2 separate regions of the Homo sapiens genome follow, and region 1 is linked to region 2. A link means that fine-mapping ties the variant in region 2 to the expression of a gene that starts in the linked region. Tissue or cell type: prefrontal cortex. Region 2 holds a variant in brackets; the other region holds the start of a gene. All regions are shown on one strand. Distances are between the middles of the regions.

Evidence for each region. PIP is the estimated chance that this variant, and not a neighbour inherited with it, causes the effect.
Region 1: it holds the start of SCYL3, and the variant in region 2 is fine-mapped to the expression of SCYL3 in prefrontal cortex (GTEx, PIP above 0.99). The same link has a PIP of 0.9 or more in substantia nigra and whole blood.

The regions. Positions count from the first base shown.
Region 1 is chr1:169,889,730-169,897,837 of GRCh38, reverse strand. SCYL3 (SCY1 like pseudokinase 3) reads left to right here and starts at 3,942. Exons shown (of 13, transcript NM_020423.7): 1 at 3,942-4,050. RefSeq lists enhancers at 3,515-3,924, 3,599-4,186, 4,187-4,774 and silencers at 4,125-4,204, 4,445-4,504.
Region 2 is chr1:169,792,016-169,800,123 of GRCh38, reverse strand. It overlaps METTL18 (methyltransferase 18, RPL3 N3(tau)-histidine), which reads left to right and starts at 5,217. Exons shown (of 2, transcript NM_033418.4): 1 at 5,217-5,309; 2 at 6,227-7,595. The coding sequence starts at 6,429. The coding sequence ends at 7,547. It overlaps FIRRM (FIGNL1 interacting regulator of recombination and mitosis), which reads right to left and starts at 5,084. Exons shown (of 25, transcript NM_001320047.2): 1 at 5,009-5,084; 2 at 4,141-4,295; 3 at 1,166-1,267. RefSeq lists an enhancer at 5,165-5,484. The variant C/T (reference allele first, on the strand shown) is at 3,925.

The DNA.
Region 1 (8,108 bases), 98 kb before region 2:
TACAGTAAGATTACTAGATTAGATTTTAAAATGAGAAATGCTCTCTAGTGCAATAAGAATAAACTTTGGGGTTAACTTTTCCACTGGACAGAAAGATTTGCATCTTTGTTGGACAAAAATATACAAGTTAGCCTGTGATTTCAATGCCCCAAATCTTTAAGAGTCTGAACAGGTGACATTTGTTCAGAGACCTGAGTGACATCAAGAGCAAATAGGTGAGTAGATGAAGAGTGAAGAGGGGAAGGACTGAGTGTCAAACTCCCTCCCATCTCTCTCCTACTCCATTCACTGCAAAATATTCCCTTCTCATTGATATTTGGAGGAGTGGGTTTACCTTGGGGAAATGAAAGGAAATACAGAGTCCTCTAGGCTGATGAATGATTATAGAGGATACCCTGGAGCTCAGCACATCTGGACATAAGATTAGGGAGCAAGGAACAGGGTGGGAAGGCCAGCAAAGACTCAGAGGTGAGGACACTGGGAAGAGGGTGGGCCAGCAAGTAGCTGTGTTGACTGCAGAAGATTTCACGTACTGGTTGAAGGGACTCATCTCTACTCCTCCTGTAAAAGGAGGAAAAACATAGTTATGAACTCTCGAGGGATAGTGTGAAAGGCAAGAGAATCCTTCTGTCTTTCAAATCGACATCCTCAGCATGTTCTCCCGCTGTCTCCTGGTGCTTGGGTGGCTGCTGCTGTTACACCCACAGCCATTTCCTTTAATAGGGAGGAAAAACCTTTCCTAATCCACTGTCTATCTTCCTCCCAACTTCTGCTATGTCTCACCGGCCAGAACTTGTGACCACCCTAGCGGGAAAGTAGGCTCAGAAAGTGATCTTTTTGATTTCTTAACTTCTTTATCGAAGGTGAACAAGGGAGAAGGGGGTGAGGAGTGGGAATGGATGTTGGAGCTAGTAAACCTAGGGTCTATGTGTTGTATTTCTTTTCTAATTCGGTCTCGAGGTCTCTCTCTGGGAGTGGTTATAAACGTTAGCTCTTCCGTGATGGGGCTTGGATATTTACAGTGTGCCTTCCATGGAATACTTCTTTATCCTGGCAGACGGCCTAAATCCTAGGTGTCTGACCCATGACAGGAGGTCCCTCTCACAGGAAGCTTGTTTATATTAGCAGGCACATTTGTGGCTCTTGTCTGCCCCGTGTCTGGTTTATTCCAACCAAGACAGCCACTCTCTAGGAGAGCCCTAACCAGGAAACAAGTCAGGTGTGGGTGTATAGGTCAGGTGAGACACAGAGGAGGTGAACAAAACATGTGAAATAATAGAAGCAGTTTCATTACTTACAGATCCATAATAAGAGGACAGCATGCCTCACAGGGCCAATGAGAAGGGGGACACACATGCTCAACCAGTGGGAGGGGGACGAGACAGAGAGAGGGACTTGCGGGCCAAAGCCTTCACTGTGGTCCTGGGTCCAACATCTTAGTCCCACTGTGACTAAGAGGTGGTCACTGAGGCATATCTGCAAAGTATATGTGGGGTATAGGGGTCAAGGGGATGAAGCAAGCAGCTTGTACCTGATGGTTCGATAGGGAGGTGGTCACCAGAGGCGGTCATACAAGGCAGATGTCTGGACTGACCACATAGAGGAAGTGGGAGGAGGCACAGAACTAGAGACTGTCCAGGGTGACTAAGCCCTGCTTCTAGTTTGAGAAGGTTAAACCTGTCCTCAGAATGGATAGTGAGGCCTTTGATATGTTCTCCCACCTCTTCATCAAGCATATTGACAAATCCTTTTTCACCAACTTGTCTTGCTATAACCGCCCAGTAGGTTCACCTTGCCGTCTGCCTAGATAGAGCCAATTTATCAAGACGGGGAATTGCAATAGACAAAGAATTCATGCAGAGCTGGCTGTGTGGGGGGCCAGAGTTTTATTATTACTCAAATCAGTCTCCTCCAGCAGTCGAGTTTTTAAAGACAATTTGGTGGGTGGGGAGGGGCAGTAAGTCAGGGAGTGCTGATTGGTTGGGTCGGAGATGAAACTATGGGGCATCACTGTCTTCTTGAACTGAGTCAGTTCTGGGTGGGGGTCACAAGATCAGATGGGCCAGTTTATCATCTGGGTGTTGCCAGCTGATCCATCAAGTGCAGGGTCTGCAAAACATCTGAAGCACTGATCTCAGGAGCAGTTTAGGGAGGGTCAGAATCTTGTGGCCTCCAGCTGCATGACTCCCAAACCATAATTTCTAATCTTGTGGCTAATGTTGGTAGTCTAGACCCCAGGCAAGAAGGAGGTTGGTTTTGGGAAAGGGCTTTTATTGTTTTTGTTTTAAACTGTAAATTATAAACTAATTTCCTTCCAAAGTTAGTTCAGCCTATGCCCAGGAATGAACAAGGATAGCATGGAGGTTAAGGACAAGATGGAGTTGGTTAAATTGGATCTCTTTAACTGCCTTAGTCATAATTTTGCAAAGGCAGTTTCATTGCTACCTGAATGATTTTCCTAACTTATCCATCAATCTCCTGGAAGCCTTTCTCCTTAACCAATGTCTTCAACTCTGCCAGACATGTGGCAGCTTCTTCATCAGCAGATGTGGCCTCTCCAGTTATTTTTATGTTTTTCAGTCCAAACCTATTCCTGAATCTGTGTAGCCATCCCTTACTTGCAGTAAATAGCTTGGTGTGCCTAATTTCAGGGGATCCCTTTCTTAAGTCTTCCTATAGGCTCAACACTTTCTGGCAAAACTTACTGCGGTCAGCTGAAATACGTTTTCTGTTCATGTCTCCCACCCACAAATGTAATGCCTTTTCCGTCTTTTGCTGTTGCACCTCAAACTACAAAAGTTACAGCCACAGTGCATGATAGGTGCTTAGTTAACTAGCACGAATCTTTTTCCTTCTTCACAATTTCATGGATAATTTGTTCTTATCATAGATTTTGGCAACCTCAGCATATGACTCTTTTTCTTTCCTTATTAAGTCCAGAGCTTTCACCTTTTCATTTAAAGGAAGCACTTTACAGCTTCTCCTCGGCATATCCAAATTGTCAGCACAATTCCTGTGCTTTGCGGCCATTATTAAGTAAAATAAGGGTTACCTGAACATAAGCAGGTGGTATCTCTCATTATCTCTGCTATACTACGGGTGCATCTGTTAACCAAAGCAGCTACTGAGTGGGTAATGAGTGGATACTGTACACAGCGCGGCTACCTGCGACAGATGATTCGCGTCAAGGGTGGGACAGAGTGGATGGCCCGAGATTTAATCGGGCTACTCAGAATACAGGCGGTTTGAAACTTAAGAATTGTTTATTTCTGGAGTTTTCCATTTAACATTTCTGAACCAAGGTTTGACCACAGGTAACTGACACTGCAGAAAGCATGGAGGGGGGCAAAACTACTGCATTAATATTAAAATTTTCAAATATTACTTTTTGCTAAATGAAATGTGATTCAGGACCTTCCCTCTCAAAGATCAAGCGAGATCACCACGACCTCCGCCAGCAGCGGCTCTGCACGACTCCACCCTCGCAGCCCAGCCAATCAAAGCTACAGGTTGAGTGACGTCACTCTCCTGAAAGTCCTCGCTAATTCCCGTACTCCTTTTCTCCGCCCTGCACCTCTACTGTTTGCTACAAGTGGCCAGCAGCCATTTTGGATTTGGGCGGAAATGAAATTAAAACTGTGCTGTTAAAAGCCTAAAAATTCAAGTCAAGACAAACTTAAGCATTCGACCAACACATCTAGAAAGGGGGCATCTTCGTGGACTAACTAGACCACTGGGGCAGTGAGTGAAACTCGGTATCGTCGCGGCGCCCACACTTAAGATGGCACCGGCCTGAGACTCAGCTGTGCGGCCTCTCTACCTCGGTTCCTGGTTAGTTGGCCTCATTGGTGGCGTCGGAGGGAGGAAGGTGGGCCTTCTGTCCCGTTTCCGGACCCGTCTCTATGGTGTAGGAGAAACCCGGCCCCCAGAAGATTGTGGGTGTAGTGGCCACAGCCTTACAGGCAGGCAGGGGTGGTTGGTGTCAACAGGGGGGCCAACAGGGTACCAGAGCCAAGACCCTCGGCCTCCTCCCCCGCCGCCTTCCTGCAGGTAACAGGGAGCCCTGCGCTGCGCCCCCAGTCCTTGCAGGACTGCGCCGTGGGGGAAGGGGCCGGGCGGGGAGGAGGCGGCGGGCGCGCGCCCCGCTCGCGGGTCTGCGCTCTGGGGCCCGCGCGGGAGCGAGCTCGGCGCGGCGCCGGCGGCCGGTTGAGCTGTGCTCTCAGCTTCGGAGCAGCCTCCCCTTGCTGATTGTGGGGCGCCCTGTAATCTGCGCTTCGCGGGCGGCCCCCGACGGGTGAGGCGCCCGCGGCCAGAGCTCTCCAAGGCGGCCGCGGAGTCGGTCCTCGCAGGGAGGTGTGGAAGGTGAGGGGCCAGCGAAGCGAGAGCGGCGCCTCGGCCCTTCAGTGACCCCGCGGGGTCGCGGCAAGCAGGGCGAGGGTGCTCGGCTGGGCGGGTCACTGTCCCGGGGCGGCAGTGCCCGAGCCCGGGGGGATCCTGGGGGCGCGCCCGCCCTCGGGAAGGCGGCCTCATTCTTGATCCAAGACCAGTGCCCGTCCCCCAAGGCCCAGCTGGCTCCTGTCTTGGCATAGTGCTTTCTGTTTAGAATAAAGATGAAACATTTCTCGGAAGAGCATATTCAGGAATCCATGTGAAATTCTCGGAGTCGGGTCTCGAATTTTGGGGGTCACTGTTAACTGCTGTTTTTAGGGACCCATGTTCTTATAAAATGTATCTTGAGCTGAAATCACAATTATTTTGGTCCATAAAGACTTAATTGTGTATTGCTTGTCAGCTAGCAATGCTGGACTGAGTTCCGCAGAGGGAATATATACCTGAAACACGAAAGCAAGGGCCGGAGTAACGTTACCGCTGGATACCAGAATATCAGCCAGTACAGTGCATCCTTAATACTCAGAGTGCAAGCCATTATCTTTGGAACTTTCAAGCTAAGGGAGCTAGGACCAAGGTAGTCTCGAGTAATTGCTGGGAAAAGAAAATATTTGGTAGAAACATTTCCATAGAGCACACGGGTTTCTTAGTTGAGTGTATGAGTTGCCCTTTGACCTAGACAAGGGTTTTCTTAATCTACAAGCGGTCCAGAAATTTTATGTGCTGCCCAAGTAGGCAAAAGAGTGGAGGGAGATTATTAAAGGGAAGACTGATGCATATTCAAGTCAGAGACTGTCAACTCAGCATTTTATTATAGAGTGGAGATGCTAAGTGCTACGAAATACCTATTACGGGATACTAGGATATCCTTTTCTACCTTCTTGTGACTTTTTAATTTCAAAGCTAATGAGCAAGATTTTGTGTTTTCCCCGTCCTCAAAACAACAGGAAAGCATTTTGGAAGGCCAAGTGTTTTTCTTACATTTCAATAAATCAATTTTAGCTGAATTATCATTTTTAAAGCACTGGCGGGCATGGTGGCACATGCCTGTAATCTCAGCAACTAGGGAGGCTGGGGAGGGCAGGTAGCTTGAGCCCAGGAATTCCAGGTTACAGTGAGATAGGATAGCGCCAATGCACTCTAGGCCAGCAGCAACAGAACAAGACCATATCTCTATTTAAAACAAAAAACAAACAAAAAAACTTCTTCATATAACAGTATTTGTGCTTCTTTAGATATATTAGTGTGAAGAATTACTGCTTCAAAACATTCTCAAATTGCAATAATCAGCACACCTTTTTAATTTTCCCCCAATAAAGTTTGCACTGGGAACATACAATATAATCTTACCACTGTCAGTATTACACTGATGGTATCAGTGGACTTCTGTCAAAGTTAACATGCTTTCAAAACAAGAAAATGGCATCCTTTCCAGTTCTCTCAAGAAATTGAGTCATCCCTTTTTAATTTTTAAGTGATTTTTTTAGTCTTAGACCTAAAATACAGTAAGAAAAATGAATTTTAACTACTTCCTAATGCTTTTATAACTTTGTTAATTATAGTGGAATTCATATGAAATCTAAGGTTAATAGCTATTGCAAGGCCAATGTTCCCACAAGGAAGTATTTTGCTATTTAGAAATAGCTAAGTAAATTAAATGTTCCTTTCTCTTGCCTCTGGTGACTGCCATTCATCAGCCAGAGCACTGACCCTGAATCCTGGTGGCAGTCTTATCTCCCATGAGGATTAATATTAACACTTAAATAAACAGCATGATTTCCTGCGAAGAAGATATTCATTAATATACAGTCCCTTATTCTCTGCTTTTCTCTTAATTGTGTGTTGATTTTGGAAAGCTGTGTTTTGTGGGTGAGAGAGAGACGGTCAGACTAGCTTCAGATACTTTCAAAGTAACACTTCTGTAACTCACTCTTCCAGTCTGACTGGCTTTTCAGGCAGGAGTTGGAGACCAAGTAGAGCTTTCTGCCTATGAAATGGCAATTAGTTTCAAAGAACATAGACCCATTCAAGTTACCTGAGGAAAAGGGGGCTGGTTGTAAGGGTGTCAATGGGATGTTAGGGTATCTGGGTGGAATTAGATTTGAGGCTGGGCTTCCGGTAGTCTTGAGATGGATAGTAGTAATGTGCCCCCTAAGTATGACTAAGCTACGGTCCCAGTGTTTGCTTTTTAAAATTTTACTACCAACTGACTTCCTCTGGAAAGTTTCTGACTTCATGTGGCTTTGGTTTGCCGTAGCTCCACCTCCACCTCATAGCATCCTTCTACCTTCGGCTATGCTTCTAATAGGCAAAAATTGTTCTTAGTTCAAATTCCTGGGGGAGACAATGATCTGGCCAGTTTATCTCTTCACTCAGGCCATGAAATTGATGGCTAATTTGTGAATTAACCGCCCTTTGGCCCAGGATAGGTACCTGCCAACATTAACTGTGCCCAAGAAGAGGTGGCAAGATCAAGTGCTAAGCATAATCCTCCCTACTCAGCAGGAGGTTGTGACAATCTGGCCAGCACTCTATCTCCAGAACAGAGGGATTAGCATTGTTGCTTTTACCCATGGTCCCACATAAACTTTTTATTTGTAGTCCCAGTAGAAAGGTGAATGTTACCATAGTTGCCATACTTGGCATTTCTTTTAGTACTGTTTTTTGCTTCTCTGTCATTTTTAAGAAAGATACATTGCCAGGTAGGTAGGAATTCAGTGAATTTGTTACAAAGCAGATTTAGTTCTTATTCTCAGCAACATTTTTAGATTTTGAAAATCTTCAATTTTAGATAGCTTTAGCCTTTATACATGTGTTTCTTATATAACGATGGTTGTGGATCGGTAGGCACTTTAAATTTTGTTCTAGGCATGTGTTTTGAGCAGCATTACATACCCAGTGTAGAAGGTGTTGTATGGAATTTCACCGAAGTGGGGAAAAATTCCAAGTAGAGGGTCAATGTGTAATGATTATTGAGTTTATATTTGTCCAAAGAATACAGATTTTAAACAAATTTTTAAAGGCCTACATAGAATTATTGGCCGTATTTGTAGCAGTTTGCTTTCTACATTGCCAGAGTTAGTAAGAACTCTATTTTCTAATTTTTATATTATGGTAAAGCCACCACTGAAAACTGACTGCCACAGATTTTTCAGACATACGTTGTTTGGCCTATATAGGTTTAGAAAACATTTGATTCAACATTGAAAAATATGGAGATTTCCACAAAACTATTCAGGCTCTTGGTTCCTCACGATAAGTGGCATGATCTGACAGTTCTGAAACTGCAGTCCTGGTTGGAACTCTGTGATAGCCACTGTCTTCAGAATGCAAGCCTCTCACAGTAGGTCCCATGCACGCACAGTAGGTCCCTCTGCCAGGCTGCCAGTACTGCTGGGGCACTGCACATTACCTGTTGTCACCCTGTGAGTTTGTATCCCTGTTGTCAAGAAAGCTGTTCATATTGTAGAAGATTTGGAAGGTGCAGGCAAGTGTGTGTGTATAAAATTACCTATAATCTGACCTTCCACTGGAAACCTCTGTTAATACTTCAACATATATTTTTCAAGTCTGTGTGTATGTATACATATATTTCTTTTCAAAACAACTTTGAGGCGTAATTGATACAGAATAAATGAAAAAAGTGTACAGTTTTATGTTTTGACATAATCACCCGTTACCATCATCATCATCAAGATAATGAATATATCCATCCTCCC
Region 2 (8,108 bases):
AGATGGAGGCTGCAGTGAGCTAGCTATGTTCGCACCACTACACTCCAGTTTTGGTGACAAAGCAAGACCCTGTCCCCCAAAACAAACAAACAAAAACACAGGCCAAGCATCATGGCTCAGACCTGTAATCACAGCACTTTAGAAGATGGAGGCAGGAGAATAGCTTGAACCCAGGAGTTCAGGCTGCAGTGAGCTATGATCGCACTACTGCTCTCCAGCCTGGGCAATAGAGTGAGATCTTGTCTTGAAAACAAAACAAAACAAACTCTGGGGCCAGGCTCAGCGGCTCACGCCTGTAATCCCAGCACTTATGGAGGCCAAGGCAGGAGGATCACTTGAGCTCAGGAGTTTTGAGACCAGCCTGGCCAACATGGTGAAACCCCATCTCTACTAAAAATACAAAAATTAGCCAGGCGTGGTGAAGCATGCCTGTAATCCCAGCTACTTGGGAGACTGAGGCAGGAGAATCACCTGAACCTGGAAGGTGGAGGTTGCAGTGAGCAAAGATCACGCCACTGCACTCCAACCTGGGTGACAAAACGAGACTCCAACAAAAACAAAGGAAAAAAAAATTAGGTCCCATTACACAACGTAGATTCAAATTATAAATGAATATTCCACAACCAAGTGAACTCTAAATAGAAAAGCTAACTCAAAATATGAGTAAACTGAGCAGTCTAAACTCTCTTCTGACTAGAAGAATGAATCTCATCAAGTAAGACTGATGAAGACATGAAAATGAGAAAGTCAACTTCCTCCAAATGGTAAATTTGTTATCACCTAGACAATCAGCTTTTGGCAATTTAGAAAGCATTTTCTAAATGACACTAAACATGTTAGAGGCTGATAGCTATTCAGTAGACTGCATATCATGTTTTATATAGGTCTAATCGTAACAACTAACGTTTAATATTTACAATTTGTTTATACATACATCATCAACAAAACACTTTGGTATTTATCCAAAATGTAATTTAAAACTTTTAAGTGCTGGAATTTGAATGAATTTGTTCATTTCAAGTAACTGAAGGTTATAAAGGCTGTAACATAGAGAACAGTTACATTTCAAGGGAATACAAAACTGTAAGAACACATCTACCGAGGTATGTGGGGACTCGGACCTTAACATCAAAGTACATCATACAGTTAAAACAATTTTACTTACGAATATGCTCAATCCAACTGTCAGAATGTTGAGACAATGAGTAGGATAATTAAGGAAGATACTAGTATCATAGTAATAGGGTATTCATTACTCAGAACAAACCTAAAAAAAAAATAAAACCCTTTTGAAATTTAAGCAATGACTCATAAGAGATTGGAATTGGACTCAAATTACTGGCTTAATTTTGCTTTTAAAAACTTAAGATTTATTAGGTAAACAGTATTGTGAAAACACATTAAAGAAATATTTTGAAAATTGCCCAGGGACAAACTTGCCTTTTCAAACTATGCATAGTCATGAAATATTTTTGACAGATGAGAAACAATGCTACAATAATCCACAGGTTTATGATTTATTTATTTATTTTTTTTTAGAGAGAGGGTCTCGCTCGGGGCCAAGTGGGGTGGCTCACACCTGTAATCCCAGCACTTTGGGAGACCTAGATGGGCGAACAAGAGGTCAGGAGTTGAAGACCAGCCTGGCCAGTATGGTGAGAACCCGTCTCTACTTAAAATACAAAATAATTAGCTGGGCATGGTGGCGCACACCTGTAATCCCAGCTGCTCAGGAGGCTGAGGCAGGAGAATCACTTGAAACTGGGAGGCAGAGGTTGCAGTGAGCCAAGATCGCGCCATTGCACTCCAGCATAGGCGAGACTCCGTCTCAAAAAAAAAAAAAAAGAGAGACGGTCTTGCTGTCACCCAGGATGGAGTGCGGTGACATGATCACACCTCACTGCAGCCTCAAGCTCCTGGGCTAAAGTGATCCTCCCATACCAGCCTCTCAAGGAGCTGGGATTAGAGATGCACACCACCATGCCCAGTTTGTACTTCCGATTTCTATTACAAGAAATTTTTCTTTCCTCAACATTTCTATTGTACTTAATTTATACCTAAGTCACTCATCACCTTCTATCTTTTTTCATATTACTTACATACCTATCTTACCAACTTTATTTGACTGAAATTCTTCTGCACATAGCAGCTTACAAATACACGACAATAAATTCTTCATATACACCATCAAGAATAATTGTTAGAATAATTGTTAGAAATGTTTTACTGTAACAACACCATAAGAATCATCAAAGAATGTTAATAAGAAAAATGAATAACCCGGCCGGGCACGGTGGCTCACGCCTGTAGTCCCAGCACTTTGGGAGGCTGAGGCAGGCGGATCACGAGGTCAGGAGTTCGAGACCAGCCTGGCCAACATGGTGAAACCATCTCTACTAAAGATACAAAAAATTAGCCGGGCATGGTGGCACGTGCCTGTAATCTCAGCTACTCGGGAGGCTGAGGAAGGAGAATCACTTGAACCTGGCTGCTGTGAGCTGAGATCGCACCACTGCACTCCAGCCTGGGTGACAGGGTGAGACTCCGTCTCAAAACAAACAAACAAACAAAAAAAAACCCATAGTCCTACCACAGTAATACAAGAATTCATTCCTCTTCCGAAATCTTATTTTTTACAGCAGCAATCAAAATGAGGTCATCATTAACTCAAATTTGAGTTCAGTAGGGTAGAATTGGCCTCATGAAAAAATTTCAGTAAAGCTCAAATAATTACCAGCTGTTCCAAAATTAGTCAGTTATGATTATGCAGACATGCAGGTAAGGCCTGGAAAATAATACGTAAAATGCAAAACATGAAAAAGATTTTGGGGGGTAATGGCATTGTAGATTTATTGCAAATTTTTCATTTGTTAAAATAGTGAAGCTAAAATACTACCATTAAGCTGAAAAAAAGTATTGTCTAATTAGACTCCCAAGTATTTTTAAAACATGAAATATTTTTAGCCCTTTAATGAATGCTTACTATGTGTCAGGCACTGTTCTAGGTGCTGAGGGTAACGCTGTGAAGAAAATCAACATCCTGCCTTTATGAACTTTGCAACATAATGTGTAGAAGTGGAAAATATACAAAGCAAACAAGAGCATTTCTTTTAATGGTAATGTGCTTTTTAGAAAACTGAACAGGCCAATGTGATACAAGTGTAAGACTGCGTTTGGGGGAACTGCCTAAGATTGAAGGCTCTGAAAAAGCCCCTCTAAGGAAGTGACATTTGGGCCAAGACATAAACATGAAATATGCAAAAGGCTGAGAGAACAAATCAGGCTGAGCAAAAAGATCTTGAGGTAGGTGAGCCTAATGTATTCATGAACAGAGTGTAGTTAATTAACTAGGTATGAGAGAAGGGCAAGGCTTAGATCACCTGGAACCTTGAAGGTAAAGTGGTTTAAAAAGGGAAATGACGAGATCTATGTTTTTCCCCTCTTAACTTTTTTGGAATAATGAATTATGAGTAGAAACAAGGAAACTATTAATACTCCAAGTGAGAGGTGATAAGGGTTTGGAATCAGAGTGGTAGCAATGAGGATGGAGATAAACGGATTGATTCAAGACATAGTTTGGAATCAGAAACAATAGAACTTACTGATCGGGTGTGTGAGACAGAGAGGATTCAAGGTTTCAGTTTGTGAAACCATTTACTCAGATGAAGAAAACTAGAGGAAGTTTGGGCTTTTTTGAATATGTCGTTTGAAGTGCAAAGCTAGGTGGGAATGTTGACTTTCAACTTAATGAAGTCTCTCTATAAGCTTGTGGGGAAGAAGAGGAATCACGTTCCGTGTCTCTGTTCTCCCAAAGCCTAACACCATGTCTCACACACATTATGCACGCAGTTTAAGTGTTTTTGAATGTTTTGAGGGTGGCTATTTGTTTTCAAGTTGAAACTCCTTGAAGACGGCAGTTCTGTA[C/T]CTACACAAAAACTAAAAAAGGGGGCTTTGGCACCTTCTGAGATTTTGCTAATGCCTAGGTGAATGACTTCTATGTGATTACATAGGGCTTTAGCTGCACAATATTTGTGCAGTATTGAGATTCTCTCAAGTGAAGGTTACTTTTTTTCTTTTGAGTGTAATTGTATAAAGCTGGGCTCAAATGTTGTGAAAAAGATACATATACATATGGTTTACCATGAAAGGCTAGGATTCCAGGCACATTTACAACCACAAAGGCATGAGACCAATCAAGAATGTGCTGCACCCGGACGAAGAAGGCGCTAAGCGCCTCAAATCCAACAGTTGAAAGCCAACAACAAGCGGAAGAACTCTTTCAGAAAGACTCCAGCCTGGGTGAGAGGAGTGAGAACTTGTCAAAAAAAAAGAAAGAAAGAAGAAAAAGAGGTCTGAGAGGGGAAGGAGGAAAATCATTTTTATTTACTGAACATCTTTTAAAGATTTCACACCACAGAACTATGCCCTTTAATTCTTATAACGCTAAGAAAGCCCTTATTCATATTCACCACCCTTTTTACGGGAGACAAAAGCTCAGAGTATCTCGCTTTACCTCAAACTATTAAGAGCCAGAGCTATCGTCATACCGCAGGTCTCAGTCCTTGCCTCCCCCATTATCCACTAGCAAAAGTATTTACACTTAATTGCAAGCAACGAGTACAGAAAAACTGAAAGAAGGAATGGAAGAAAACGCCACATCCACTGCTAAAACCTTGGGTCAGAACACGTCCGCGAGGCTTTCCAGGGCCAAAGCCTTACTTAAATCTACCACGGTTGTCGCTTCCCCTCCAGTCCCTCACTTTTCATCCCACTCACTGACAAAGAAAAGAGGGGGTTCAGGCCGCGGTAATATAACCCAGCCTGGCGGTGGGTCTGAAGGGACAGAAGAGAAAGGTTCGCGACCCGCCCACACCCTTCTCTAGGTAGAAGTGACAACCAAGGAAGGATATGAGGAGTCGGGGCAGGACGGACGGCAGTTCCCGGCGGCATAGCTCCTCTGGCCAGCTACTTAATTCTTCCAGGGGAACCGCGCTAGCTGGGACCGCACCTTCCTGAGACATACTTTCGTCAAACAGGAGAGCTTCAAACCAGACCCGCCAAAGCCCAGACCGGAAACTCGCAGTCCCGCCAACCCTTGCGCGCTCTCCGCCGGCTCCAAAACCATAGAGAGGAGGGCGGCTGGTTTCTTGGTGAGCCCGGGTCCCTCAAGGCCGGAAAGAAAGTCGGGCTTCTCTAGCCCCTGGAGGACTCGACTCACTGGTGCGCGATTTAGGTCCGGAGGAGGCGTTGTGAGGTGAGCTTTTTCAGAAGCGCGATCCCAGGACACGTCGGGAAGCAAGCATCCCCAGGTCTGGATCACTGTAAACATTACATTCAAATGGGGAGGTGAGGGCCAGAAGTCCCCACTTCTGGGGTCGGATTTGTTCCGGGACCTGCAGCCGGAAGTGACTCCAAGCCTTGCAGCGTGATGGGAGAGGAAAGAGGCGCGTTCCTAGCCGCGGGACTGGGTGACCCGCCTCTCCCCCAAATTGTAAATCTTGTATAAAGGGAACAAAGATCCCACTTGCCAGAACTGTGAAAATTGAGGCAGATGGTATAGTGTCTAGCGCAGTAGATAGAAGATTCTCAATAAAGTTGCTTCTTATTTCTACAGGTCTCTCCAAACTACTGCAGTGCCCTAGTTTGCGTTTGCTCTGCCACCGAATTAGTCTTTACTAATTATTGCCAAATTACCCCCACTTCTATACACTTAGGGCTGCTGTTCTCGACTAAATGTTTGGAGTGAAGTCTTGGATGAATTTACACACACCAGGCCATACCTATGCATGTTTTTAAAGGGACGCTGACTTACCAAAATAAAATACTGCACCTCTTCTGTAAAAGACAGAAGTGAAGTTATTCTGGAAGCTTAGGGGGTGAATATGGTTGGACACAAATCAAGACAGCTGAAAGACAGCAAGTAGCTAGGCTGTCCTGTCTGAATATCTTGGACTTTATGTTTGTCCAGGTGGTAGTGGTGGTGGTTGCTGTTGTTCTTCTGTTTGTTTTTATAGTTGATTTTCTTCTCCCACTTTGGAACCCTTAAGGTGTGTATGAGTGTCCAAATCTCTTATCTCTCTCTCTTCCCCACAACTTTTTAAGAAAAAGCAGCTGTATGGTGGGACAGGGAGGGGTGGGGGTGGCTGTTTAATATTACACTTTAGTGAAATGTGCCATTTTGCTTTAATCATCATTTTCTTTCTTTTTTTTTTTTTTTTCTTTCCAGAGCTGCTTGGAAAGAGGACCAAAGACGTCTAAAAAGTCATTTGGAAATATCTCTAAATATTTGTTACCATGTATAAGCTGCTAAAGAGAAATTGGGCCCAACAAAACTAATTGAATAATTGAGGCAGATTTGTGTGTATCATCAAATTCTATCCAGAAGTTGAAGAATCTGAATTTAAAGATTGTGTGCATTTAATAAGAGGATGACCTTTCAGTTTAATTTCACTATAGAAGACCATCTGGAAAATGAATTAACACCCATTAGAGATGGAGCTTTGACCCTGGATTCCTCAAAAGAGCTGTCAGTCTCAGAAAGTCAAAAAGGAGAAGAGAGGGACAGAAAATGTTCTGCAGAACAATTTGACTTGCCTCAGGATCACTTGTGGGAACATAAGTCAATGGAAAATGCAGCTCCCTCTCAAGACACAGACAGTCCACTCAGTGCAGCCAGCAGTTCAAGGAACTTGGAGCCACATGGAAAACAGCCCTCCTTGAGAGCTGCCAAAGAGCATGCTATGCCTAAAGATTTAAAGAAGATGTTAGAAAATAAAGTCATAGAAACATTACCAGGTTTCCAGCATGTTAAGTTATCAGTAGTGAAAACCATCTTGTTGAAAGAGAACTTCCCTGGAGAAAACATAGTTTCAAAAAGCTTTTCTTCTCACTCTGATCTGATTACAGGTGTTTATGAGGGAGGCTTAAAAATCTGGGAATGTACCTTTGACCTCCTGGCTTATTTCACAAAGGCCAAAGTGAAATTTGCTGGGAAAAAAGTCTTGGATCTTGGTTGTGGATCAGGTTTACTAGGTATAACTGCATTCAAGGGAGGGTCCAAAGAAATTCACTTTCAAGATTATAACAGTATGGTGATTGATGAAGTAACCTTACCTAATGTAGTAGCTAACTCCACTTTGGAAGATGAAGAAAATGATGTAAATGAGCCAGATGTGAAAAGATGCAGGAAACCAAAAGTAACACAACTATATAAATGCCGATTTTTTTCTGGTGAGTGGTCTGAGTTTTGTAAGCTTGTACTAAGTAGTGAAAAACTTTTTGTAAAATATGATCTCATTCTCACCTCAGAAACCATTTACAACCCAGATTATTATAGTAATTTGCACCAGACTTTCCTTAGACTGTTAAGTAAAAATGGACGTGTACTTTTGGCCAGCAAAGCACATTATTTTGGTGTAGGTGGAGGTGTTCATCTCTTTCAGAAGTTTGTAGAAGAAAGAGATGTTTTTAAGACCAGAATACTCAAAATAATTGATGAAGGATTGAAGAGGTTCATAATTGAAATAACTTTTAAGTTTCCTGGTTAATTAACATTCACTGAGTATCCAAAATGAAATAAACAGAAGGACCAAAAATTTGAGTGTTTGATTTCTGTTTTGCTATTATTTTTTCTGAAATTTTGATGTTGTTTGTTTAGTTTTGTTTATCCAAATTGTAAGTGAGCTATGTTACCAGTCTTTTACTCACTAGGTGAAACTGAGAAGGTATCCTCGTGCATTTGATGAGATCTCCTGGGAAATCATTTTGTAAGAAAATCCGGTATTCTCCATCTTCATTCTATTTGACCTTTTACCACCTTTGACGTTACATGAAATTGTTCCCAGGAAATCCTGCCATTTCTTCTCTCAAGTCTGTGAATTTCTTCCCAGTCTTCGTTAGTTCCTTGTTCACATTAATATATATCACTAAATATTAGGTTGGGGCCTTATGTAAATAGGAAGAGGTTTTTGTTTCGTTTTGTTTTTATATTCATTTACCTTGTATAGTAAGGATCAGAATGCTGAGAATTTAACTAAATTCACATGGAGATGAGGAAACAAAGGGAATCTGTGACAGAGTATAAAAGTAATACAGAGAACTTGTACTAC